Linked DNA regions of Homo sapiens. The protein of the gene in region 4 purifies or fractionates together with the protein of the main gene of each other region. This does not show direct contact. Each region holds a gene or a part of one and is shown on either strand. Other genes may lie near its edges. The genes, in order: MKI67, PRKAG1, ELAVL2, KSR2, CDC42BPB, JAKMIP1 and SLX9.

Region 1 (3,500 bases), on a different chromosome or scaffold from region 4:
CACACCTCTGGGAAGTCATGGCCCTATAGCTCATAACCTTTGTAATAGGGCCTGGGCGGTCTTTCTTTCCTTCTCTTCCCAGCAGGAGTGGAAAGTGATGTCTGGCTCCCTTTCCATTTTACACTGGCTCCCAGGGGCAAGCAGTCCTCCCTCCATGTGGACTGCCGGGGGCTGGGTGCTCACAGCTGGTATTTACTGGGACTGAGATCAGACCCTGCTTGTCTTTCACTGATCAGGATGTTCCTTCCACCTTTTTACCTGAAATGACCTCACTTCAGACTTGGCTTGCTTCTCTTTCCTTTTCCTTAAATGACTGAGACAGTCTCACCTCTACCATAGTCTTCAAAGACAGTGGCTTAAGCATTTGATGCTTCAAGATTTAAACAGCTGAAATTCTTAACTGAATAGGTTTTTATCAGTCATTCCAGAGATGTTAGATCCTTGTTAAGGCTTCTTGTAAACAATTTTGTCTTGTCAGGAACAGCCTCAACCATCAGGAAAACAAGAGTCAGGTTCAGAAATCCATGTGGAAGTGAAGGCACAAAGCTTGGTTATAAGCCCTCCAGCTCCTAGTCCTAGGAAAACTCCAGTTGCCAGTGATCAACGCCGTAGGTCCTGCAAAACAGCCCCTGCTTCCAGCAGCAAATCTCAGACAGAGGTTCCTAAGAGAGGAGGGAGAAAGAGTGGCAACCTGCCTTCAAAGAGAGTGTCTATCAGCCGAAGTCAACATGATATTTTACAGATGATATGTTCCAAAAGAAGAAGTGGTGCTTCGGAAGCAAATCTGATTGGTTAGTCTGACATTAGAATACATATATTAAGGTGAATTTTTTCATGAATGCTAATTTTTGAAAAGTTTCGTCTTTTCCCTTTGACAGTTGCAAAATCATGGGCAGATGTAGTAAAACTTGGTGCAAAACAAACACAAACTAAAGTCATAAAACATGGTCCTCAAAGGTCAATGAACAAAAGGCAAAGAAGACCTGCTACTCCAAAGGTAGGGGCCTCACTGAATGGCTGCTTTACACATACCGGTGTCATCGAAGCTTGCATTCAGTGTGGATTTATGCTTTAATGTCCTGTTTACCTCCTTCCTGTTTTCTACAGAAGCCTGTGGGCGAAGTTCACAGTCAATTTAGTACAGGCCACGCAAACTCTCCTTGTACCATAATAATAGGGAAAGCTCATACTGAAAAAGTACATGTGCCTGCTCGACCCTACAGAGTGCTCAACAACTTCATTTCCAACCAAAAAATGGACTTTAAGGAAGATCTTTCAGGTAAAAACGTAGTCTTAGATCTTATAAATCTTTTGACTCTACTGTTTTTTACTGTGTTAATGTTTGTTTTGCTAACTTTGTTTATCTGCTGTGAAAGAGATTATAAAATAAACGACTCAATCACCCTTCTGGGGTCTTAGTGTTCAGGGAAGATAAAGCTGTTTTGGCTTGCAAAGACAAGTCTCTGCTAATTTTTGGGATCACATGTCCTGCATGAAATAGGTGTGGAAATGTCAAATGCATGTCTTTACCCTGGAGAGCAGCGTATACATAGAAAGCTGGAAGGTGCTTTACAGTGAAGAGAGTTAACTTGTTAATCTGCAGGTACAATAATAGTTTATCCCAGGTGTGGGCCAGTTGTTGTTGAGCAACATTTTGCTTCTTCAGGATTGACTTTCTAGGTAGCTTAACTTTCTTGAAAGAAAGCCCTATGAGAAGATTCCCATAAACGATTGTTGAAGAAATATTTCCATTCAATTCCCACTCTCAGTAAATTGTGGCCTGACTTGTGTAATTTAAAGTGGGGATGGCCGGCGCAGTGGCTCACGCCTGTAATCCCAACACTTTGGGAGGCTGAGGCCTCCTATCATTCCAAACAGAATGATAATGATATTAGATTTTCAAAAATATATATTATTACTTGACAGTACTAAAAATGGGCAGCTCTTTGTCATTTTCTAAAATGTGGGTACGTGTTATTTGTACTTAAAATCTAGAACTGAGCACCCAAGACTTTGAGAAGCATGAAGGCATTTGGCCTCTAGATCCTAGCAGGGAGGCCTATGGGTCTCAGGAGCCCGTCACCAGCCTCCGTGCTCCAGAGCTCACGTGTGGGGTCTTGTTAGGAGGACCCAGAGGTCAGCTAACTTCATTTGTTTCCTTTCCAAGAAAAGCAAAGCGAAGAGCATAACATATCTTCTCTGTGCTCTCTTTTTTACAAAATGAGTACATTATTAATGGAATCACTCTTTTTATGAGGCCTATGTACCAGGATTTCAAGGGAGGAATCTACTGTTATTTCCCACCATTTGCACGTTACATGTGAGGGCTGGGATGGTTGTCTGCATGTTAGCAATATGTCAATCACTTTTCAAATATTTTCATTTAACAGGAATAGCTGAAATGTTCAAGACCCCAGTGAAGGAGCAACCGCAGTTGACAAGCACATGTCACATCGCTATTTCAAATTCAGAGAATTTGCTTGGAAAACAGTTTCAAGGAACTGATTCAGGAGAAGAACCTCTGCTCCCCACCTCAGAGAGTTTTGGTTGGTTTCCTTGTTTCCTAACACTGTGATGTTTTGGGATAGGAACATACAGTATTATTTTTTTACAAGCAGTATGATATTACTTCTCTAAAACAAATGTTCCTGGCACAAAATACCATTTCCGTCTTCTCTGTTCTAATTGAAAGGGAGATTTCAATCAGCAGTTGAACTAACATTGGCATTCATTGACTTATATAGAAAGAAAGACTCCGTTAATGTGTGTAAATGACCTGTGTACACTTTTGGCTTCTTTATTGTAAGTAACCAGGGTGACATAGCAAAAAAATACAATGGTGTCTCACCATATTTACATATAAATTACTCATATTCAAAATTACTGCCAATTACAAAACAGAAAGATAACAGTTTGTATACTGTGCAATTATTCCTGCTAACCTTTTAGGTGGGAGCAGGCCCGGGGTAAGTGTGAGATGGGAGATGAGAATCTGTCTAATCTCTCATTTGGCACTGGTCACTGTATTCCTGTCACAGAGGGAACAGCTTGCTACCCTGAAGATGTTTGCGGTAGGTAAATATTTCCTGTGTAATATGGACCCTAACCACATAAGGATAATCCATGTTATTTTATTGGCGATTTAAGGCAAGAAACAGCTGTTTGTTTCTAATGTTTGAAGGAAAAAATGCCTATATTTACGTCAATGACACAGGGCATGGCAACCTTTGGAGGAACCTTCTGAAGCAGTATTTTTACCTTCTATGATCATTTCAGCATCTAACTTTGCTTAATGATGACCCCACTATAGCACCAAATAACATTATTCTTAATTGTGCATGGCTCTTATAAGACAGATTTATAGACACATAAGTAGCCTCATGTCGTTCAGTGAATACGAAGCTAAATATTTAGTTTTTTACCATATTTTATGAGGCTGTAATACTCGATTGACATGAGACACTAATAGAATGTTTTTATTGTGTATGTTTTTATTTCAG
Region 2 (3,500 bases), about 69 Mb from region 4:
ATTTTGGTCATTGGGTTAAGGTTCCTTACCAAGGCTGATTTATAGTAGCGGTGCAGGATATTGATGAAATCAGTGATGGTCAGCATGCCTAGAGGACAAGACAGAGCCCTCAGCACTGCCTGAAGCTTGTCTCCCTGCCCAGCACAAGATGCCAATAATATTGTGTTCCAGAAACTTTTGCTTACCCACAAAACTTTGCTTCTTACTATCCCATAAAGGGGCAGCTCGTACACCGTTAGTCACCAAAGCAAAAAAAGCTTTCTTCACCTGTAGCCAAGACAGTAATAATCATAAAGGCAAATCCACAGGGGCAGGACTGTAAAAAAAGAACAGTGTTTGGGCATGTTGGGTAAAACATGAGACTAACTTCACAGAAGGATAAGGATATTACCCTTAGGATGAGATAGGATGAGAGGTATTAAACCACAGGCTCCAAAGGGGGAAGGGAAAAGAGGATTTCACCCACCTGCAGGGACGTATCAAATACAACCAATTTGGAGCTTGTGGGAATCAGGTCATAGCAGCGATGAGACTTCATGAAGGAAGTATACACGCTATTGTTGGATTCTGGGGTCTCTGCATAGGGTGGGATAGTTAGTAGCTTCCTTCCACATAAAAACTCCCAATCAAAAGAGACAGAAAACAAAATAGTGTTCTAGTATCTCAAATATTTAGAGCATTATTTTTTAATAAGACCCCTTATTTTATCTGTCTTGTTCCTATTGTTTCCACAAAACCTGGATAAACCTCTTAGAAACCATTTCATCCAACCCCTGTCTCCAGGTTAAGACTTTATCTATTGGTCCCTATAGGTAAAAGAAGTTGACTAAAACATAAAGCCTATAGTATCTCTCTTTAACATGTTATAGTCTAAAAATGTTTCTCATCTTTAATCCAAGCTTTCCCTTTCATATACTTAGCACATTTTCACTTTCCTCTTTTTTCAATGAAGTAAGCTTCTTAAAATTCTTCCAAGACTGTGCTGGGGATGGTGGCAAGCACCTGTAATCCCAGCTACTCAGGAAGTTGAGGCAGAGGATCACTTGAACCCAGGAGCTCGAGGCCAGCCTGGGCAACACAGCGAACCCCTGTCTCAATTAAAAAAAAAATTATTCTAAGACCTGCAAATGGGAAAGTCATGGTCCAAGTTGGGCCATTTCTCATTAACAATAAGTTGGAGCCCAGTGCTCAATCAACCTGGCTCAAAACACCCTGATAGTCCATTCTGGGATCACCCTGTAAATCAGAAATCATCCCACCTACTCTAGACAAATGGGAGATCCTGGCTAGTTTACCTTTTTCTATTCCTGTGATTTTAATTGCTTGCTCTAAACTAGGGAAGTAATCTCCCAAAATAATAGCTTGAATGTGCTACATACTATACTACGTGCACTTAAAAATATTACATTGAGGCTGGGCGTGGTGGCTCATGCCTGTAATCCCAGAACTTTGGGAGGCCAAGGTGGGAGGATCACCTGAGGTCGGGAGTTCAAGACCAGCCTGACCAACATGGATAAACCCTGTCTCTATTAAAAATACAAAATTAGCCGGGCATGGTGGCGCATGCCTGTAATCCCAGCTACTCGGGAGGCTGAGGCAGGAGAATTGCTTGAACCCGGGAGGCAGAGGTTGCGATGAGCCGAGATCGCAACATTGCACTCCAGCCTGGGCAACAAGAGTGAAACTCCGTGTCAAAAAAATAAATAAATAAATAAATAAATTACATTGGCTGGGCGTGGTGGCTCACACCTGTAACCCAGGACTTTGGGAGGCCAAGGTGGGTGGATCACCTGAGGTCAGAAGTTTGAGACCAGCCTGGCCAACATGGCGAAACCCCGTCTCTACTAAAAAAATATAAAAATTAGCCAGGCGTGGTGGCACGTGCCTGTAGTCCCAGCTACTCAGGGGGCTGAGGCAGGAGAATTGCTTGAACCCAGGAGGTGGAGGTTGCAGTGAGACGAGATTGTGCCTCTGCACTCCAGCCTGGGCGACAGAGTGAGACTCCGTCTCAAAAAAAAAAAAAAAAAATTACATAATTTAATCCTTACAACAAATGTGTAAGTAATGTCCTCATGTTTCAGATGAGAAAATAGGTGTAGTTAAATAAACTGCTCAAGGTCACACCATTAATAAGTGGCAAGAAAGACTCAAACAAACCCAGATCTGTTTCCAAACTTCATGCTCTTAAGTCTTTAATCAATTTGGTTTTTAATATTTATTTTTTTAACCAAAGTTATATAGACACACAGTTAAATCAGTCCAACAGTTTTACAAATTTTGTTAAGAAAAAATTGCACTCCTTGCAACCCACCTCCCTGTACTACCCTTCCCCAGAGATGAGAACATCTATCTACCTTAGTTGATTATTTTGGTACTTAATTCTATGTCCTTAAATAACATGCTTGTATTGCTAGTTTCCATTTTTTTTTTCATTTTGGGGCATTATTTATCATCTATCTACCAAAGAAGATGAGAATTTCTAGTTCTCTCTCCTACTAGGACTCCACCACAAACACGTACTTCCCATTCTCCTCATTATTCCAGGAGCTAAACCATAATGTTGGTTATATCCGTATTTCAATCTTTTTTTTTTTTTTTTTTGAGAGGGAGTCTTGCTCTGTCACCCAGGCTGAAGTGCAGTGGCACGATCTCAGGTTACTACAACCTCAGCCTTCCAGGTTCAAGCGATTCTCCTGCCTCAGCCTCGCAAGTAGCTGGGGTTACAGGTGCCCGCCACCATGCCCGGCTAAATTTTGTATTTTAGTAGAGACAGGGTTTCACCACATTGGCCAGGCTGATCTCGAACTCCTGACCTCATGTGATCTGCCCGCTTTGGCCTCCCAAAGTGCTGAGATTACAGGAATGAGCCACTGCACCCGGCCAGTATTTAAATCATTTTGACTGAATATTTATTATTCAGAGATAAGCCAAATAGTAAACTCTGATTTTTTTTTCTTCCTTCACAACTTTGTTTTACCTGGAGTTAATGTCTTGTCCTTTTGTTTAATTTTCTATGTATAATTCTTATAACTAATCCAACCCCCAAATGCTTCACCAACTATTTAAATCTCCTTTTAAGAGGTTCAAAAGCATTAGACAGTCTATCAAAATTTAAACTACCCAAAGAAATCTCCCTGGAGCCTTCTGACCTGCTCAAATCTGGGCTGGTTTGTCTGGTGTGCACTGCTGTCATCCTGGGATCTTTCTTCATCACCATCCTGGGTACCCCTTTCACGTCTGTCCTCTACTGGTGCTCCTATATCGCGTTTTTATCTTTTTTGATTACTCCCTTATTTTGGTGGAACACATCTTCCAGTAGCTTCCTGAGAAAGGGTGCATGGGAGGTATGTGTTTTTGAGACCTTGCAGCCTGTAGATATCTTTATTCTACCCTCATCCTTGGATTTATAATTCGGCTGAATAGAGAATCTGCAGGAAAGCTTGGAATGTGTTTTCCTGCAGAATGTTGAAGGCATTGCTCCATTGCCTGCTAGCTGCTGG
Region 3 (3,500 bases), on a different chromosome or scaffold from region 4:
CTGTACAACTTCAAATAAATACCAGCCTTACATTTTATTAAGTGCTCTGATAAAACACTGTAAAGTGAAGCACAATTTGCATGCCCTCTCATCAATGCCTTGGTTTGCTACAGTAGTATAGGAAAGAAGCATGTAGCTGCTGTTTTCCCTTGAGGGAAACCTTATTATTTTTTTTTAAGTATATACATGTATTTTATTTTTTAGTGTTTTTCTTTTTTTAAACGCAGAAGGTTAACTCTGGCAATCTAAATGCACCTAAGGATATGAGAAAGTGCTAAGCCAATTGATTTCTGAATAGCATTGAGTGGGTCAGCATGAAAACTCGCTTATTCACTTTAGCACGCGCCTCACAGTATATGTACTGTACTATACTGAAAAATTTTATAACTACAATTTTAAATAATAAAAAATAAAACTCAAAGCAACCGCAAAGATAATGTACAACTATGTTATGCATAGCACATTGCCTGTTCTAAGGGGAAGCATGTGAGCATCTCAGTTTATACAAAAAGCAGGACGTAACTATATAGTTCTCAGTGCATCCTGATGAAGGCATTTTTGCCTTCAGCTTTTTTGAAAATTTATTATAAGCTAGATGCTAATCAGAAAATATTTTGTATTTTTTAAAATTTCTTTCATACATGGTAAAGACTTATTTTATTATTTCCCCAAATAGTGGTTTTTAAGCATCATACAAAGTTAAATTTCAATAGCATACAGATATTTATGATTTTTGTATGAAAAATGTAAGGAAATTTGTTCAAAACCTATGGTTATACTCATTTTTTTATACCACAAACATATTTATAAACCAAAATGTAGCATCACCATAAACAGCTGAAGCTAGACTATCTACAGACAAAATTTGCAACAAATCTGATGCACTGTAAATTCAAGTCCTCAGGACAACAAAAGTGATTAAGCAAGACCTCAAGTAACAATGTTAATGCCATTTACAAAGGAAAAAACTGATACAAAAACATTCAAAACCTGAACATCACTTGGCATGTAAGGGAAAAAAAATTAAATTAGCTGAAAGGTTCATAAACACAAGGTCTTATTTACATTACACAAAGCTCAGGTGTTAGCCTTGAACGTAACTTTCAAAATACCTTCAAATATATCCAACTCAGATCACTTTTGCTGATTTGCTGCAGTACAAATCATGTGCAACGTCTTTTTTCCTTAAGACAAAACAATTCTTCAAACAATACTGCAAGTACATCACTAAACACCATGAGCTCTATCTGAAGGGATTTCTTTAGGAAGAACAGATTTTTTCCCCCATCTCTCGGTAATTTAAATTTCTTGCCTGCTCTTATATATTCTTTTGTAAATTTTTTTTATTTGTTTCAAAATCACAAATCAATGTGAGCCACCTATCACATAATAACCAGGATGATCAGACGCTCCACTGGTGATTACAAAAATGAAACCAGCAGTGTTTCCCCCCATTGATTCTACTCCTTTCATACAAAGATCTCAAAAGTATTTTCTACACCATAAATCTTTCTAAATTTTCCAACCGCTGCAAATTTCCTGGTAAATTTTAAAAGCTCACTAGGTGTCATATGAAGAGATTTCTCAAAGTATTCAAGTCAAAATATTTGTTCCAGGACCAGTAAAAAGTTTCTCCAAATTTTCTTTTTTATAAAAATAGATGCTTTTTTTAAACCCACATCAAAGAGGCTCTTATCTCTTTGGCAAGGTACTGCTTTACGAAAAGTTCTCCAGTATTCTTACAATAAGCGTTTATAATGTAGCCCCCCCTTCCCCAACCCAAATCATAATTACAAAATAAATACTGTTTTAAACTTCATAAATAAAAATGTAAACTTCAAAATACTTTTCTTAAACAGACATAACAGCAATGCTTTAAATGTAAACCAAACACAAAGCTAATCAGAAAAAGGAAAAAAAGGGGGGAAAAAAAAGACACAACCAACTGAAGAATTACAACACAAAGCCTCAATATTTACTCACAGGTTCAAGGCAGTTATGTAAAAAGAAAAGAAATGTCTTCCCTTAGCTGAAACACTTTAAAAGGTCCACCTTCTTCAAAGAAGGCAATAGAATGCAATGTGACAGGTAAAAACCCTGTACCTCTTGTCCATATTCAAACATAAAAGATATTTAAGAAGTTTTAATTCAAATACTAGCAATAAAAAATCTCACATATTTCTTAGGATGCTAAGTAGTCATTTTATCCCCATCTCAACACTGACTTACAAAGACATTTACTAATGTATAAAGTTTCTCTTAACTTGCCTTTGTTGTATAGTTTTCATATATAAATGGACTGAGGACAAGAGCTCATTAGGCTTTGTGCGTTTTGTTTGTCTTAAAGGAGACCTGCAGTACTCTGTCTCCCAGACGGTATCCATTGAGGCTAGCTATCGCCATGGCAGCCTCATCATAGTTTGTCATAGTCACAAATCCAAAACCTTTGCATTTATTGGTGTTAAAGTCACGGATGACCTTCACATTGGTGACAGCTCCAAAAGGCCCAAACATTTGCCACAGGATACTCTCATCTGCGTCAGGAGCCAGGTTGTACACAAATATACACCACCCTGTTCCAGGGTGCCCAGGGATATTAATTCCAGCCAAACTGGTCATTCCGTCAATGGTCATTGGAGAAAACCTGCTAAACAGAATAGGAAATACACACATACACACAAAAAATAAAAACAGAGGTTGGTTATAGCAATGAACGTATACCTTTTCCATCCCCAAGAATTTTAGTAACTCTCCTCCCCCAACAAATATATAAACTATTTCATGTTTTGACCAAGGTCTGTGTGTGGCTTTGCAGTGACATGCTAGACTACTGAGATATTAATAAGTTATGAAATGACCATTATTCACTGTACTGAATATCATCCACAATAGCAAAGAAATATATTTAGAACTGGCTTCATGAATTAAGCAGGATTGGCAGGGGAAGGGATCAACACATACGTAAACATGCTGTAACGTCGTAACGCAATACGAAACAAATGATGGGTTTTTAAAAGACCAGGTGGCATCCGGTGGTATAAAAATTTCTTGAGTCAATTGTGCTTCAAAGAGCAGCTTTTCATTAGGTTGCACATGCAAAATAAAACCCAACAAAAACTTATGAGGGGTGTGAATAGCACTCCCAAAATCAAAGAAACCAATCAACTGTGGAAAGGGATTATGAGTATCATGAACCTCTATCATTACCTCTTTACTCCATAAGCCATATTGAGCAGATTGTCCAACCTGCAAAACACACATTTAGCAAACTTCAGTTTTTAATTTTTCCCCTTGATGTTCAAGAAAGTTGGGCTCATTACTGCCATCTTCCGAGGGGATATCTGTACACTGATTATATGTGAAGACTCAGAATGCTGGGTCTTTTTACGTTTTTAAGCTAATGGGCACCGACTGCCACAGGACAGTTCTTCCAATGAATGGTTTCTCTCTACAAGGGTCAGTACATGGGACACAGTGACGGTCATCTGAGGATACCTTTC
Region 4 (3,500 bases):
ATAAAATTTACCATCTTAACCATTTTGAAGTGTACAGTTCAATGGTACTAATTACATTTGCATTGTTGTACAACCATCACCACCATCCATCTCCAGAATGTTTTCATCATCCCAAATGCAAAGTCTATATCCAATAAATAACAACTCCCCATTCTCCCTCCCCTCAGCCCTGGCATCCACCGTTCTACTTTCTGCCTCTATAAATTGTCTACTCTAGGTATCTCATATTGGTGGAATTATACAGTATTTGTCATTATGTGTCTGGCATATTTTACTCTTAGCATGCTGTCTTCAAGGTTCACTCATGTTGTAGCATATATCAGAAGTTCCTCCCAGGTCGGGCATGATGGCTCATGCCTGTAATCCCAGCACTTTGGGAGGCCAAGGCGGGCAGATCATTTGAGGTCAGAAGTTCAAGACCAGTCTGGTCAACATGGTGAAACCCTATCTCTACAAAAACTACAAAAAATTAGCCAGGCGTGGTGGCACAGGCCTGTAGTCCCAGCTACTTGGGAGGCTGAGGCAGGAGAATCACTTGAACCTGGGAGGCAGAGGTTGCAGTGAGCTGACATCCCACCACTGCTCCAGCCTGGGCAACAGAGCTAGACTCCGTCTCAAAAAAAAAGAAGTTTCTTCCTTTTTAAGCCTGAATAATATTGCATTGTATAGATAGACCACACTGTGTTTACTCATTTGTCTACTGATGGACACAGGTTGTTTCTACTTTTTGGCTACTGTGAATAGCACAGCAACCTGCCTAATCCTCGAGTCTCACCCTACATCACACACCTGCTCTCTCCCCCAAAGGGGTCCTCTGTCAATTTCCCCAACGTGTCCTGCTTCCTACCACCTTCAACTGAGATGAGCCGTGGATATAAAATACACATTCAATTTCAAAGACTTTGTATTTTAAAAAATGCAAAATATCTCTGTAATGATATTTTACATTGATTCTTTGTTAAGATATTATAATTTTGATATATTGGGTTGAATGATGTATTATGATCATTAATATCACTTGTTCCTTTTCATTCTTTTTAATGTGACTACTAGAAAGTTGAAGGTTAATATATGCCTCATATCCTATTTCTAGGAGCGGCACTAGGCTAGACTCTGCAGGGGTTGGCAAACGTTTTCAGTAAAAAGCCAGATGGTAAATACTTTCAGCTTTGTGGGCTATTCTCACTCTGCCATTGTCACACAAAAGCAGCCATAGGCAACACATAAAGGAATGATCATGGGCGTGTTCCAATACCTTTTATTTACAAAATCAGGCCGGGTATCAGATTTAGCCCCTAGGCCATAGGATATTAATCGTATTTTTTAAACGGCCAATTCTGGGAAATTCTGTTCTATTCATTTGCTCAGAACCCTCTGTGAAAAGCCATTTTTCATTCAACCAGAGTCTGGAACGCAAGTCTGTTCCCGGTTTCCTTGACCTGGGCAGTTCCTGGGACCAAGGGGCAGCCCCTCGCAGGCCGGGTTTCGACCGCCCCAGGGCACCCACCGATCGCACTCACTTGGGCGTGTGGGCCTCGTCCACGCGGTGCCCCAGCTGGAACTCGTGGGATTTGCTCCGATGCAGCGCGGTGAATCCCGGGATCAAGTGTATCAGTTTTCGGGAGGAGGGCGGTGGGGTCCCCGGGGGCTTCAGCTTGTTCTTCTTCCTCATGGGCGGCGTGCCCGGCGGGGTCACGGTGGTGACGATGTTGGGGGTGCGCGGCGGGGTGCGGACCGCGTGCCGCTGCCGGGGCGATGGGGGCAGGGAACGGTGGCCCGACTCCAGTGGCGGGGGCGGGCACAAGCCCGGGTAGGCGTCCACGGTAAGCCTGTCCACGTGGGTGTACACAGGGGCCCCGGGAGTGGGGCTGGTGTGACAATAGTGCTGGACGCACTTGGACGGGACCCTGGGGCTCTGGGAGAGATGGGTGCGGATCCACGGGGTGGGCTCCGGGGGGCACACGGGATTGTTCTCCTTCCCCGTCTCTGTCGTGGGCCACTGGATGGTCCAGTCTTGTTTGGAAAGGTTGCCTCCTGAGTTGGAACAGAAGAGCAGAGACAATGGGTAAGCCATGAGAAAGCCAGGTGAGTTACACCATACACACCATTACATCATACACACATTACACCACGTGCCCATTACATCATGTGCATGTTACACTATATACCTGTTACATCGTATGCATGTTATCTCATATGCAAATTATATCTTATGCACATTATACCATGTGCCCATTACATCATATGCATGTTACACTATATACCTGTTACATCGTATGCATGTTATATCATATGCACATCATATCATATGCATGTTACACTATATATCTGTTATGTTGTATGCATGTTATATGCACATATCATATGCACATTACACCATATGCATGTCACATTATATGTGCATTACATCATATGCATGCTATTTCATATGCCCATTACCTCTTACAGACATTCTATCAAATGCATGTTACATCATACCCACATTACATCATAAGTACATTTACATAAAGCCAACCATCTCTACTTGGCTCCTCCAAAAAGACAATAAAATCCCCTTGTTGACCCTGTTACCCTATTCTCCATTCAACAGCCTTGCCTTCCACTGCCCCATAGCTGGGAAGACCCCACAGCCCAAATGCTCAGAAAAGCAAAGAAGTTAATTCTCACTTTTTGAACTTCCCAAGGTCCCAGTTCTGGTAGTTTCAAAGTGATTTAAAGGACTTTAAAGGATAACTTTTCCCTTACATGGAAATTTTAATACCTAACCCTCATGTGAGATACACAAATTCCAAGGAAGTCAAGTTCATCCTTAGTCCCTCCCTGACCACTTCCTCAGCCACCGCATACTTCCTCCAGATCTGTGTCGCCATGTTCTTATTCATGCATTTGTCCAGTAAACATCCTGTGAGTGCCAACTATGCCCTTTGCTTGGAAAAGACACAAAAGCAACACAGATGAGACCCTGGTCCCCTGGACTTACATTCTGCCAAAGCAGCCATGATAGACAAGAAAACATGCTCACAGAAGGATTTCACATGGTTATTGGTGCTGGGAGGGAAATAAACAGAATGACGTGATAAAAAGAATATGGGCAGCTGGGCACGGAGGCTCACACCTGTAGTTCCAGCAATTGGGAGGCCGAGATGGGCAGATTACTTGAGGTCACGAGTTTGAGACCAGCCTGGCCAACATGGTGAAACTCCATCTCTACTAAAAATACAAAAAAATTAGCTAGGTGTGGTGGCGTGTGCCTGTAATCCCAGCTACTCAGAAGGCTGAGGCAATAAGAATCGCTTGAACCCAGGAGGCAGAGGTTGCAGTGAGCTGAGATCGCACCATTGCACTCCAGCCTGGGCAACAAGAGTGAAACTCAGTCTCAAAAAAAAAAAAACCTTTTTTTTATTTTATTATTATTATACTTTAAGTTTTAGGGTACATGTGCACAATGTGCAGGTTAGTTACATATGCATACATGTGCCATGTTGGTGTGCTGCACTCAT
Region 5 (3,500 bases), on a different chromosome or scaffold from region 4:
CCAATCAATAAAACTAACCAAAAACCTAACCCCCAACACAGATTGTTTAAAATCAAACTGAAACTTGACCTTTATCTCCCAGTTAGTGGCTAGTGTATTTGGGGCGGGGGGGCGGGAGATTACTACACGCAGTTCACATTGCCAAAACACTTCTGATTTTAGATTTAAGGAGAGGGTGTTTCCTCTCATCCATTCTCATTAGCAAGAGAGGCTTTCTGTGAGCTTCTCACACAAATTTAAGGTAACCATAACATACCGTCATCCCATAACACTAAGAATCTAAGAAAAAAACAAACGTGGTCAAGGACTAATAGGTATTATGTTATGGGTTTTGGGATGAGATTACATGGTAACATTGTTTTTAGTCTCTTCCAGCTAAAAAAAAAAAAAAAAAAGCTTTGTCTCTTTTCAGAGAAAAGCATTTGACAGTTTCACTGTATTTAATATAGTTTGGAATTAACAGTCCTGTGTGCCTGCCTGTTTATCCAGTATCACTAATGTCAGCGCAACCAGGAGACATCTAAGGGCACCTGGCTTGCGACAAGAGGCAGGGCGGAGGCAAGCAGAGGAGCTCTCTGTCAACCCTGCAGTGTTGTGAGTTCTGTAATTTACATGCATTTGAGTATTTTGCCTGAAGGGCAATTCACTGCACATTTTAAACTTTTTCAGGTAGCTCACACAGTGGTATCCTGAAGTGAGAACTATTTCTTCAAATCCAATTTTATTTCTTTGAAGTCTAGATTTAAGAGAGACACTGCTGCTCACTGTGAAGCCCAACTGTCATGGAAGGAAGAGGTTTTTTGTTTTTTTTTTGGAGACAGGGTCTTGCTCTGTTGCCCAGGCTGGTGTGCAGTGGCGCAATCTCAGCTCACCGCAACCTCTGCCTCCTGGGTTCATGAGATCCTCCTGCCTCAGCCTCCCAAGTAGGTGGGACTATGCGTGCCACCACACCCGGCTAATTTTTGTATTTTTAGTACAGACGGGTTTTCACCTTGTTGGCCAGGCTGGTCTCAAACTCCTGATCCACTCACCTTGGCCTCCCAAAGTGCTGGGATTACAGGTGTGAGCCACCACACCCGGCCTGAAGTTTTAAGACAGAAAAGGTAGGGCTGGGTTGTTAATGTTTAATGGTTTCAGCTGTCCTATCTCATGCTATTATAGTCAGTATCAAACAGCTACCATAGAATCTACATGATCTAAATTAGGTTAAACTAATTTTTATCATGCAATCCTAACATTTCCCTATAATTCAGATCTTACTCAAAAGATCTATTTCTTAAGTCTGTTATTTTTAAAAAGTGTTCCCATGTTATGCAAATATTCTATCCAGAGAAATCATTAAGATAAAAATGTATTTGAGCCGGGCACAGTGGCTCACGCCTGTAATCCCAGCACTTTTTATTATGAGATGTTTAGCACCGTGTCAGTTAAGCCTTACTTATTAAATTCGGTGGCATCATCCCACTCACACCTTGGGCTGGCCATTCCCACACTAACAGCTATGGGCATTCACATCCATGGAGGAGGACCGTGAGAAGATACTATCACACTCATGGTGAGAAAAGCCACAAATGAGGAACCACCCAGAAGACTAGGAGGATTAATTCTATTCATGAAGAGGAAGCACATCTCGAGAGAAGATGCCCGGACTGGGGACTGGAAACCCACGGTCCGCCTCTGTGACACCAGCATCAAGCCTGAGGCCTCCCTCCTGGTCTGACGGCCACACAGCAGCCAGGGCAGAGGACCACTGTGGCCTGTCCAATGCCCATAGGCTAGGATTTCAAACATCAGCTCCATCCAAACGCAACATTAGCTGTTACAAATAAGCTGTGGGAAAAATATTTAACACATAAGACAGTATTTGTATATGACAAAGATGAAAGACAACAAATTCATCTCACTGGGTTGTCCGTATTTGTTGCTATTTACTTTTGGAAACTGTAAAGTGTTTCATATGTTCTGCTTCAAATGGTATCAAGATATTTTCAAAATAGCTTAAAGAAATATACATGCAAGGCCAGGCGTGGTGGCTCACGCCTGTAATCCCAGCACTTTGAGAGGCCGAGGAGGGTGGATCACGAGGTCAGGACTTTAAGACCAGCCTGGCCAAGATGGTGAAACCCCGTCTTTACTAAAAATACAAAAATTAGCCAGGCGTGGTGGCAGGCACCTATAATCCCAGCTACTCGGGAGACTGAGGCAGAGAATTGCTTGAACCCGGGAGGCGGAGGTTGCAGTGAGCCAAGATCGCACCACTGCACTTCAGCCTGGGCAACAGAGTGAGACTCCGTCTCAAAAAAAAAAGAAAAGAAAAGAAAAGAATACACACGCAAAGCTGGGCATTAAGGTTCAAGATTTCATAGAGGAAACCAATCAAGCTATAGGAAAATTAAAGACAAAAACCTACAATGAAAGTTGAAATGACTCGGCCAGGCACGGTGGCTCACACCTGTAATCCAAGAACTTTGGGAGGCCAAGGGGGGCAGATCACGAGGTCTGGAGATCGAGACCATCCTGGCTAACACGGTGAAACCCCGTCTCTACTAAAAATACAAAAAAATTAGCCAGGCGTGATGGCGGGCGCCTGTAGTCCCAGCTACTCAGGAGGCTGAGGCAGGAGAACAACGTGAACCCGGGAGGCAGAGCTTGCAGTGAGCCGAGATCCCGCCACTGCACTCCAGCCTGGGCGACAGAGTGAGACTCCGTCTCAAAAAAAAAAAAAAAAGTTGAAATGACTCTTGTCCCATGCGACCACTGTGGCAATAAGAAAATATGAGCCAAAAATAATCATATTTTATTTATTTTTGAGACAGGGTCTCACTCTGTTGCCCAGGCTGGAGTGTAGTGGCATGATCATTGCTCATTGCAGCCTTGACCTCCCAGGCTCAAGTGATCCACCCACCTCAGCCTCCAGAGTAACTGGGACTACAGGTGTGCGCCACCATGCCCAGCTAATTTTTATATTTTTATAAAATTTTATTTTGACATTTATTATAGATACTGGGTTTTGTCAGGTTGCTCAGGCTGGTCTTGTCTTCCTGAGTTCAACCAATCCTCCACCTTGGCCTCCCAAAGTGCTGGGATTACAGGCATGAGCCACTGCACCAGGCCATAATCTTCCTTTAAAACTTAAAAAGTTTACTACCTATACTTTCCAAATTTCCTCACATATTCCCCATTAAGCCTCCAAATCTGGGCTGAATCAGCTACTTTTCTTCCTTAAGTTTCAAGAATTCTCCATAATTGTCATTAGATACCTGGCAAGATTTGGGAAGTGGGGAAAGGTTGGCTTTTCCACGTGACAGGAATCGACATATCAGAGGTTTCAAATGTCATGGAGTGGTGAATCCAAAAACTGAACAGTCCACTGATGGACAGCCTATATGTGTTTCCTGAGCAGAAGTAATTCCACTTGGAAGTTAGAGTACCTAATATTGCTCTATAAATAGTTTTATTCAAAAACATTATTCTGTGCTTTCCAATCGAAACAACCAGGC
Region 6 (3,500 bases), on a different chromosome or scaffold from region 4:
GCTGCTTCTGCAGAAAGAGGCTTTGGATGAGCAGCTGGTTCAGGTCAAGGAGGCCGAGCGGCACCACAGTAGTCCAAAGAGAGAGCTCCCGCCCGGGATCGGGGACATGGTGGAGCTCATGGGCGTCCAGGTGAGGGGCAGCAGCTTGTGCCAGCCTCAGGCTGGTCCCCCACCCATTTAGGTGGCATTTTTCTGGTCAGCCACAGAGGACTCTGAGGTGGCATGTATTCACTCATTCATTCATTCACTCAGTATTGGAGGGGATGTTATAAGTTCTTTGTGCTGGACGCTGTGTGAGGTGCCGGTGCGTGGCGGCCTTTGTAAGAGATACGGGGTGGGAGGGGCCTGACCACAAGGGCCCCAGGGAGCCACGGAAGGGTTTGAAGTCTCAGTGGCCGTCTAGATGGAGTCTTCCGCAGGTGTGCAGTGGGCTTGGGTGTTCCCCACCTTGCTGTGTGGCATGTGGGCCCCTGAATAAGGATCTCACCCATTATGTCATGTGAATTTTCTAAGAAGGCTCCACACAACTTCTTCAAAGTACATTTACGTCTTGACTTTTTTTTTTTTTTTTTTTTTTTTTTTAGGATCAACATATGGACGAGCGAGATGTGAGGCGATTTCAACTAAAAATTGCTGAACTGAATTCAGTGATACGGAAGCTGGAAGACAGAAATACGCTGTTGGCAGATGAGAGGAATGAACTGGTAAGTAGCCCCAAGAGACAGGCGGTGCCTCATAGGGTGCAAGGAAGGGGCCCTGAGTCCCTGAAACATGCCCTGCACAGAAAGTTAATGCAGAAGCCTTCTGGTTCTCTGAACTTTCCTTCTTACTTCTTTTCGATTAAAAATCTAACACATGCTCATTGAAGAAATCTCTTACTGCCATTTGTTTTTGTAGGAACTTATCTTTAGCAAACAACTGGAGAACTTCCATGAGAAGCATGGAGAGGATGTTCATTGCAGTGTTGTTTATGTTAACAACCGAAACCGAAAAAAATCAACAATTAAAAAACCAAAAAACCCAATTGTTCAATACTAAAGCGTAGGGCAGAGTGATTATGGAATATTTATACAATGAATTCTAGACTGTCATTAAGATTGATGATGGAGACCCTCTTTAATTGAAATGGAAACGTGTTCATAGTAAATTAAATGAAAAATGCATTTTACAGAACAATAATACATTGTCATCATCTTGAATATTAGAAATTATTCTTTTTTTTTTTTTTTTTGAGATAAAGTTTCACTCTTGTCGCCCAGGCTGGAGTGCAATTGGCACCATCTTGGCTCACCGTAACCTTCACCTCCCGGGTTCAAGCGATTCTCCTGCCTCAGCCTCCCGAGTAGCTGGGATTACAGGCATGTGCCACCATGCCCGGCTAATTTTGTACATTTAGTAGAGGCAGGGTTTCTCCATGTTGGCCAGGCTGGTCTTGAACTCCTGACCTCAGGTGATCTGCCCGCCTCAGCCTCCCAAAGTGCTGGGATTACACACAAGAGCCACCACATCTGGCTAGAAGTTATTCTTTTAGGTGGTGTAATTATGGGTAATTTTAATTTGTGCTTATGTATTTACTTTTTTGCATAAAATTTTATATACTTGTAAACTAAAACTTATACATTAATTTTAAAAATAATGAACATGGACTTCTGGTTAAAAAAGAAATCTCCAGTAAAAATAGAAATTTCATGAATATGTTTACATTTTCTGGATAACAGCAAAACTAATTTTTATGTAATGGCAGTTGATACATCAACTTCTTGACAGATGCCTCATAATTTTTATGTTTATTCTAATTTTTATTATGAAGAGAAGTATATCCACAGAATATTTGAAAAAAATGAGTGGTGAAAAGTGTCCGTAAGTATCACCTCTTCACAACTTTAATAGGATCAAAATAAATTTACTTCCTTCCAGTATTTTTAAATGTTTTTTTTTTTTTGGCTTTAATCAGACTGTACATCTAATATTATGTCTCTACTCTTCATTTAAATATTTATAAGCTCATAAATACTCATGAGCTGCATAGTTTACTGAGTGGATTAGGAAAAAACACAGGCTTCTGGAAACATGTCAGATCAGACTGAAGTAGTTAAAAGTAGAAACTAATAAGTTTGCCAACGCTTCAATCTTTTTTTTTTTTTTTTGAGGTGGAGTCTTGCTCTGTCGCCCAGGTTTGAGTGAGGTGATGTGATCTCAGCTCACTGCAACCTCTGCCTCCCGGGTTCAAGTGATTCTCCTGCCTCAGCCTCCCAAGTAGCTAGGATTACAGGCACCCGCCAACACACCCGGCTAATTTTTGTATTTTTAGTAGAGATGGGGTTTCACCATGTTGGCCAGGCTGGTCTTGAACTCCTGACCTCAAGTGATCTGCCTGCCTCAGCTTCCCAAAGTGCTGGGATTACAGGCGTGAGCCACCGCGCCTGGCCTCAATCTTAAAATCATGAGGTAACTACTGCTAGTTTGGAGTGGTTCTTAAATGTTCTTAATGTTTAAATAAATACCTTAAAACTCACCGAGAGACTTTGTTTTATTTTATGGATATGAATTGGGATTTTTTTCCCTGCTGTGTATTGTTCTGCAACTTGCTTTTTTCACCTCATTGATCAATTACATCACTCCCCATCAGTGCTTAGAGATCTGTCTTTGTCTTTTTACCAGCGGCTTGGTAGTCCATTGTGTGGATATACCATGGTCTGTTCACCTCTCTTCCCAGTGGTGGATCTTTAGGCTGTTGCCGCTTTCTGGATTTCTGTGAGGTGCCACATGCCTGTAATCTCAGCACTTTGGGAAGCCAACGTGGGAAGATTCCTTGAGCTCAGGAGTTCCAGCCCAGCTTGGGCAGCATGGCAAAACCCCATCTCTAAAAATACAAAAAAATTAGCTGGGTGCAGTGGTGCACACCTGTAGTTCCAGCTACTTGGGAGGCTGAGGTGGGAGATCACTTGAGGCCAGGACGTCAAGGCTGCAGTGAGCTGAAATCACGCCACGGCACTCAAGCCTGGGTGACGAAGTGAGACCCTTTGTCAAAGTGACACATGTCATTTTACCTACCTTCTGTCTCGAAAAAAAAAAATGCCATGAAGAAGATACATATGGGTCTTTACTGACTTTACATAAAGGTTCAAGTCAGTAAAGACACGTATGTATCTTCTACATGGCATTTTTTTGGGGGGGCGGTAGGTTTCTAGAAGTAGAATGCATGGGTCACATGGTACATTTTATATTTCAACCTATACCATCAGAATATTTTACCTTAACATTTACAGCCTGGGGAGTAAACGCAGGGGTCTAGAGTCAGTCCCTTGTGTTTGAATCTTGGTGAACTCAAACCACCAATCTTTGCAAAAGTGCAAAGCATTCTTGGCACTTTCTTTGTGAAGTTGGGCCCATTGCCTCCTCTCTTTGGGCTCAGGTTCTTTGTCTATAAAATGCGGATGGGGAAGGTGGCCCCTTCACATGTGTTGGCTGTGCCTGTGGTTATCATGATATTGATAGAT
Region 7 (3,500 bases), on a different chromosome or scaffold from region 4:
CCGTGAAATTTTTTATTGTGGAAGTAACCTGTGCTCGTGGAGTTTTTATGGTTCAGAAGTGCCTGCAGTGGTATGTGAAATCCTTCCAGGCCTTGCCCGCGGTGAAAACAGTGTCTGCGCATAGCGGCGTGGGTGTGGGCAGGGCCCCTGGTGTCCCCAGACCCTTTCAGGCCTGTGGCTCCCTCTTTTCTGAGGTCAGCCTTGCCACGTGCTCCCAGCTGCACGTCTCCGCAGGCTGAAAGCCACACTTCCCACTCAGGTTGTTTTGGAGTATCTCCTTATTTTTCGTGATGCTGGATATTTGCCAGTGTTTTTCTAAGATTGTTTCTCGTCAAAATTATTTTGTATTTTTCGGTTATCTTTTTAGTGTGATTCTGCTGACTTTGTGAAATTAATTTGGAATATTTTCTTTTTTATGTTATCTGCTTTATTTTTTCCTTGGAGGTTTTAAAGAAAATGTATGTTTTTCAGAGGTAGGACCTAGAAAACTTTGTCAGTTTCTTTTGTGATTATTAGTTTTATGGTTTCTATCCCTTTTTGGATATTTCTTAGGGAAATGATTCATTCCTCCATTTTCTTTTTCACAGTTCCTAGCATAGCTGTGAAAGTGGATTTGGACGGGCTACTGGACTGTGGCCATTTGGACCCTGATTTTCTAGGCTGTAATTCTTTGATGATGTGTAAATTTTATTCCATGGCACTTGGTCCTTTTTTTTTGTTTTTTCACAACTTGAGTCAATTTTGGCCACTCATAAAATGATCGAATTTGTCTGAGGATGGTGTCTCATGCCTGTAATCCCAGCACTTTGGAAGGTTGAGATGGAAGGATCACCTACGCCCAGGAGTTTCAGACTAGCCTGGGCAATATAGCGAGACCTTGTCTCTACAAAAAATGTAAAAATTAGTCAGATTAGGTGGTGTATGCCTCTGAGCCTCTAGTCCTAGCGACTTAGGAGGCTGAGGTAGGAAGATCGCTTCAACCCAGGAGTTTGAGGCTGCAGTGAACCGTAATTGCACTAGTGCACTCCAGCCTGGGTGACAGAGTGGGTCCTTGTCTCTAAATAATGTTAATGATCAAATTTAGTCAGATCTCAATCTTCATATGTTAGTTGCCTTCTTATTAAATATTCTGTTTTCTTTATCGTTCTTTATTTGTATCTCCACCTTCATTTCTGATTAAATTAAGAAGTTTTGTCTCTTCCATTTAATAATTAATGTATTTAATAACCAATTCTACTCTTTTGTCTTCAAAATTATTTGTTTTTATTTTGATCACTCCCGTTTTAGCTTTCTTTGGGTTTCAGTTACTCTGCTTATCTGTTTGTATATGTTTTGTTCAGGAGTGAAAGGCTGTAAGTTATCTCTAAATACAGCTTTAGCTACATTTCCCAAGTTACTTTTACTTTGTATTTTATTATGAAAAATTTTATTTAGGAAAGTGGGAAGAATTTTATAGGGAATACCCTGTACCCACCACACAGATTTTACAATCTTTATTACATAACCGTTCATCTAGCAGTTTCTGTCCATCTACCAACATGGGTTTTTAAAAATGCGTTTCAAAGTAAATGGCAGACATCAGTACACTCCACCCCAAATAATTCTGCTAGAGTTCATGGTTCTTTTTTTTTCTTTTTCTTTTGAAGATTGTATTTACATAAAATGAAATGCAAATCTAAAGTGTGCCATTCAATGATTGCTGACAAATGTTGTAGACACCTGTGCAGCTGAAATCCTGTTCAGGTTATGGACCATCACCACCATTCCCCGACAGTCACGCACCCCCCCAGTCAATTACCTCTCCCACTGGCCCCAGAGGTAACAACTGCTGTGTCACCCTTTGTCGTCCACAGTTGAGCTTTTCTTGCCTTAGACTCTGTATAAATGGAATCATGTAGGATGCACTCTTTCTGCATCTGGCTGCTTTTGCTCAGCGTAATGGTTTTGAAACCCATCCAGGCTGCATGTAGCAGCAGTCCATGCCTTTTGATTGCTGAGAAGTATTTCATTGTATGAATACACCATTTGTTACTCACTTTCCTGCTGATGGGCACCTGGGCTTTTTTCCATTTTTAGCTACTGTGAATAAGGCTGCTCTGAACATTCTTTACAAGTCTTTTTGTGGACATGTTTTCGTTTCTCTTGGGTAAGTGCTGAGGAATGGAATGCTGGGTCATAGGGTAGGTGTATGTTTAGTTTTATAAGCAGCTGCCAGACGCTTTTCTAGAGTGGTTGTACACTCACACTCCCACCAGAGCCTGTGAGAGTTCTCCTGGCCCTCAGCTTTGCCAACACATGGCCTGCCGTCTCCTCAGCCTCGGCCGTCTGGTAATCATGAAATGGTATCTCACGGTGGTACTCATTTCCGTTGCCACCAAAAGAGCATTTACATGTGCTTACTGTCCATTTGTGTTTCAGCGTCAGTGAAATTCATTTTTCATGAGGCTTTTTGTCTTTTTATTATTGAGCTCTAAGAGTTCTTTGTCCTAGAGTCCAGTCTTTGGTTGGATATGTGTTTTACAGATGTTTTTCCCAGACTGTGACTTGCCTGTTCATTTTCTTTCTTTTTTTTTTTTTTTGAGATAGAGTCTTGCTCTGTCGCCAGGCTGGAGTGCAGTGGTGCGATCTTGGCTCACTGCAAGCAACACCTCCTGGGTTCAAGCGATTCTTCTGCCTCAGCCTTCTGAGTAGCCGGGACTACAGGCACCCGCCACCGTGCCCGGCTAATTTTTTTGTATTTTTAGTAGAGATGGGGTTTCACCGTGTTAGCAGGATGGTCTCGATCTCTTGACCTCGTGATCCGCCCGCCTTGGCCTCCCAAAGTGCTCGGATTACAGGCGTGAGAACTTTTTTTTTTTTTTTAAATAAACGAGAGTTTAATTTTGAGAAGTTTAATTTATATTAGTTATTGTGTGTGTGTATATGTATGTGTGTGTGTCCTATTTAAGAAAACTTTGCCTAATCCCAAGTCATGAAGATATTATTCCTGTTTTCTTCTAAAAACTTTATAGTTTGAGCTTTCATATTGGTTTTTTTTTTCTATCTTGAATTGTTTGTCTATGTGGTGTTAGTGGTTAAGTTCCTTTTTTCCCCCTAATATGGATATTCAGCTGTTCCAGCACCATTTGTTATAAGTACTTTTCTTTCCTTATTGGATTGTTTTGTTGCCTTTGTGAAAAATCAGAAAGTCTCATAAGTGTGGATCTGTTTCTAGGCTGTCTTCTGTTCCATTGATCTATTTGTTGTACCTTAGCAAAAACCAGACTGTCTTGATTACCATAGCTTTAGGATTAATCTGGAAGTCAGATAACATAAGTCCTTTTTGTTGGTTCGTCTGTCTTGAGGTTGTTTTGGATATTCTAAGTCCTTGGCATTTCCATATAAATTATCATTAGCTTGTCTATTTCTTTAAAAACAACAACAAAAACCTAGTGGGGTTATGATTGGGATTTCATTGAATCTATAGATCAGTTCAGAATTACCATCTTAGCAAAGCAGAT

What was found.
Region 1: the proteins of KSR2 (region 4) and MKI67 purify together in Homo sapiens (affinity purification with mass spectrometry; one large-scale study listed by BioGRID and IntAct). This does not show direct contact.
Region 2: the proteins of KSR2 (region 4) and PRKAG1 purify together in Homo sapiens (co-immunoprecipitation; one large-scale study listed by IntAct). This does not show direct contact.
Region 3: the proteins of KSR2 (region 4) and ELAVL2 purify together in Homo sapiens (co-immunoprecipitation; one large-scale study listed by IntAct). This does not show direct contact.
Region 5: the proteins of KSR2 (region 4) and CDC42BPB purify together in Homo sapiens (co-immunoprecipitation; one large-scale study listed by IntAct). This does not show direct contact.
Region 6: the proteins of KSR2 (region 4) and JAKMIP1 purify together in Homo sapiens (co-immunoprecipitation; one large-scale study listed by IntAct). This does not show direct contact.
Region 7: the proteins of KSR2 (region 4) and SLX9 purify together in Homo sapiens (co-immunoprecipitation; one large-scale study listed by IntAct). This does not show direct contact.

The regions. Positions count from the first base shown.
Region 1 is NC_000010.11:128,109,424-128,112,923, reverse strand, and holds part of MKI67 (proliferation marker protein Ki-67), read left to right. Parts: intron 1-478; coding exon 479-791; intron 792-878; coding exon 879-997; intron 998-1,107; coding exon 1,108-1,279; intron 1,280-2,390; coding exon 2,391-2,546; exon of another isoform or gene 2,547-2,977; coding exon of another isoform or gene 2,978-3,071; intron 3,072-3,500. UniProt on the Homo sapiens protein: Protein that associates with the surface of mitotic chromosomes and acts both as a chromosome repellent during early mitosis and chromosome attractant during late mitosis.
Region 2 is NC_000012.12:49,005,277-49,008,776, forward strand, and holds part of PRKAG1 (5'-AMP-activated protein kinase subunit gamma-1), read right to left. Parts: intron 3,324-3,500; exon of another isoform or gene 3,150-3,323; intron 577-3,149; coding exon 467-576; intron 317-466; exon of another isoform or gene 268-316; coding exon 186-267; intron 116-185; coding exon of another isoform or gene 89-115; coding exon 30-88; intron 1-29. UniProt on the Homo sapiens protein: AMP/ATP-binding subunit of AMP-activated protein kinase (AMPK), an energy sensor protein kinase that plays a key role in regulating cellular energy metabolism.
Region 3 is NC_000009.12:23,690,241-23,693,740, forward strand, and holds part of ELAVL2 (ELAV-like protein 2), read right to left. Parts: intron 3,247-3,500; coding exon 3,208-3,246; intron 3,076-3,207; coding exon of another isoform or gene 3,054-3,075; exon of another isoform or gene 2,962-3,053; intron 2,648-2,961; coding exon of another isoform or gene 2,645-2,647; coding exon 2,317-2,644; 3' UTR 1-2,316.
Region 4 is NC_000012.12:117,759,491-117,762,990, forward strand, and holds part of KSR2 (kinase suppressor of Ras 2), read right to left. Parts: intron 2,035-3,500; coding exon 1,521-2,034; intron 1-1,520. UniProt on the Homo sapiens protein: Location-regulated scaffold connecting MEK to RAF. Has very low protein kinase activity and can phosphorylate MAP2K1 at several Ser and Thr residues with very low efficiency (in vitro).
Region 5 is NC_000014.9:103,051,050-103,054,549, forward strand, and holds part of CDC42BPB (serine/threonine-protein kinase MRCK beta), read right to left. Parts: intron 1-3,500. UniProt on the Homo sapiens protein: Serine/threonine-protein kinase which is an important downstream effector of CDC42 and plays a role in the regulation of cytoskeleton reorganization and cell migration. Regulates actin cytoskeletal reorganization via phosphorylation of PPP1R12C and MYL9/MLC2.
Region 6 is NC_000004.12:6,082,050-6,085,549, reverse strand, and holds part of JAKMIP1 (janus kinase and microtubule-interacting protein 1), read left to right. Parts: coding exon 1-130; intron 131-584; coding exon 585-704; intron 705-3,500. UniProt on the Homo sapiens protein: Associates with microtubules and may play a role in the microtubule-dependent transport of the GABA-B receptor. May play a role in JAK1 signaling and regulate microtubule cytoskeleton rearrangements.
Region 7 is NC_000021.9:44,960,529-44,964,028, forward strand, and holds part of SLX9 (ribosome biogenesis protein SLX9 homolog), read left to right. Parts: intron 1-3,500. UniProt on the Homo sapiens protein: May be involved in ribosome biogenesis.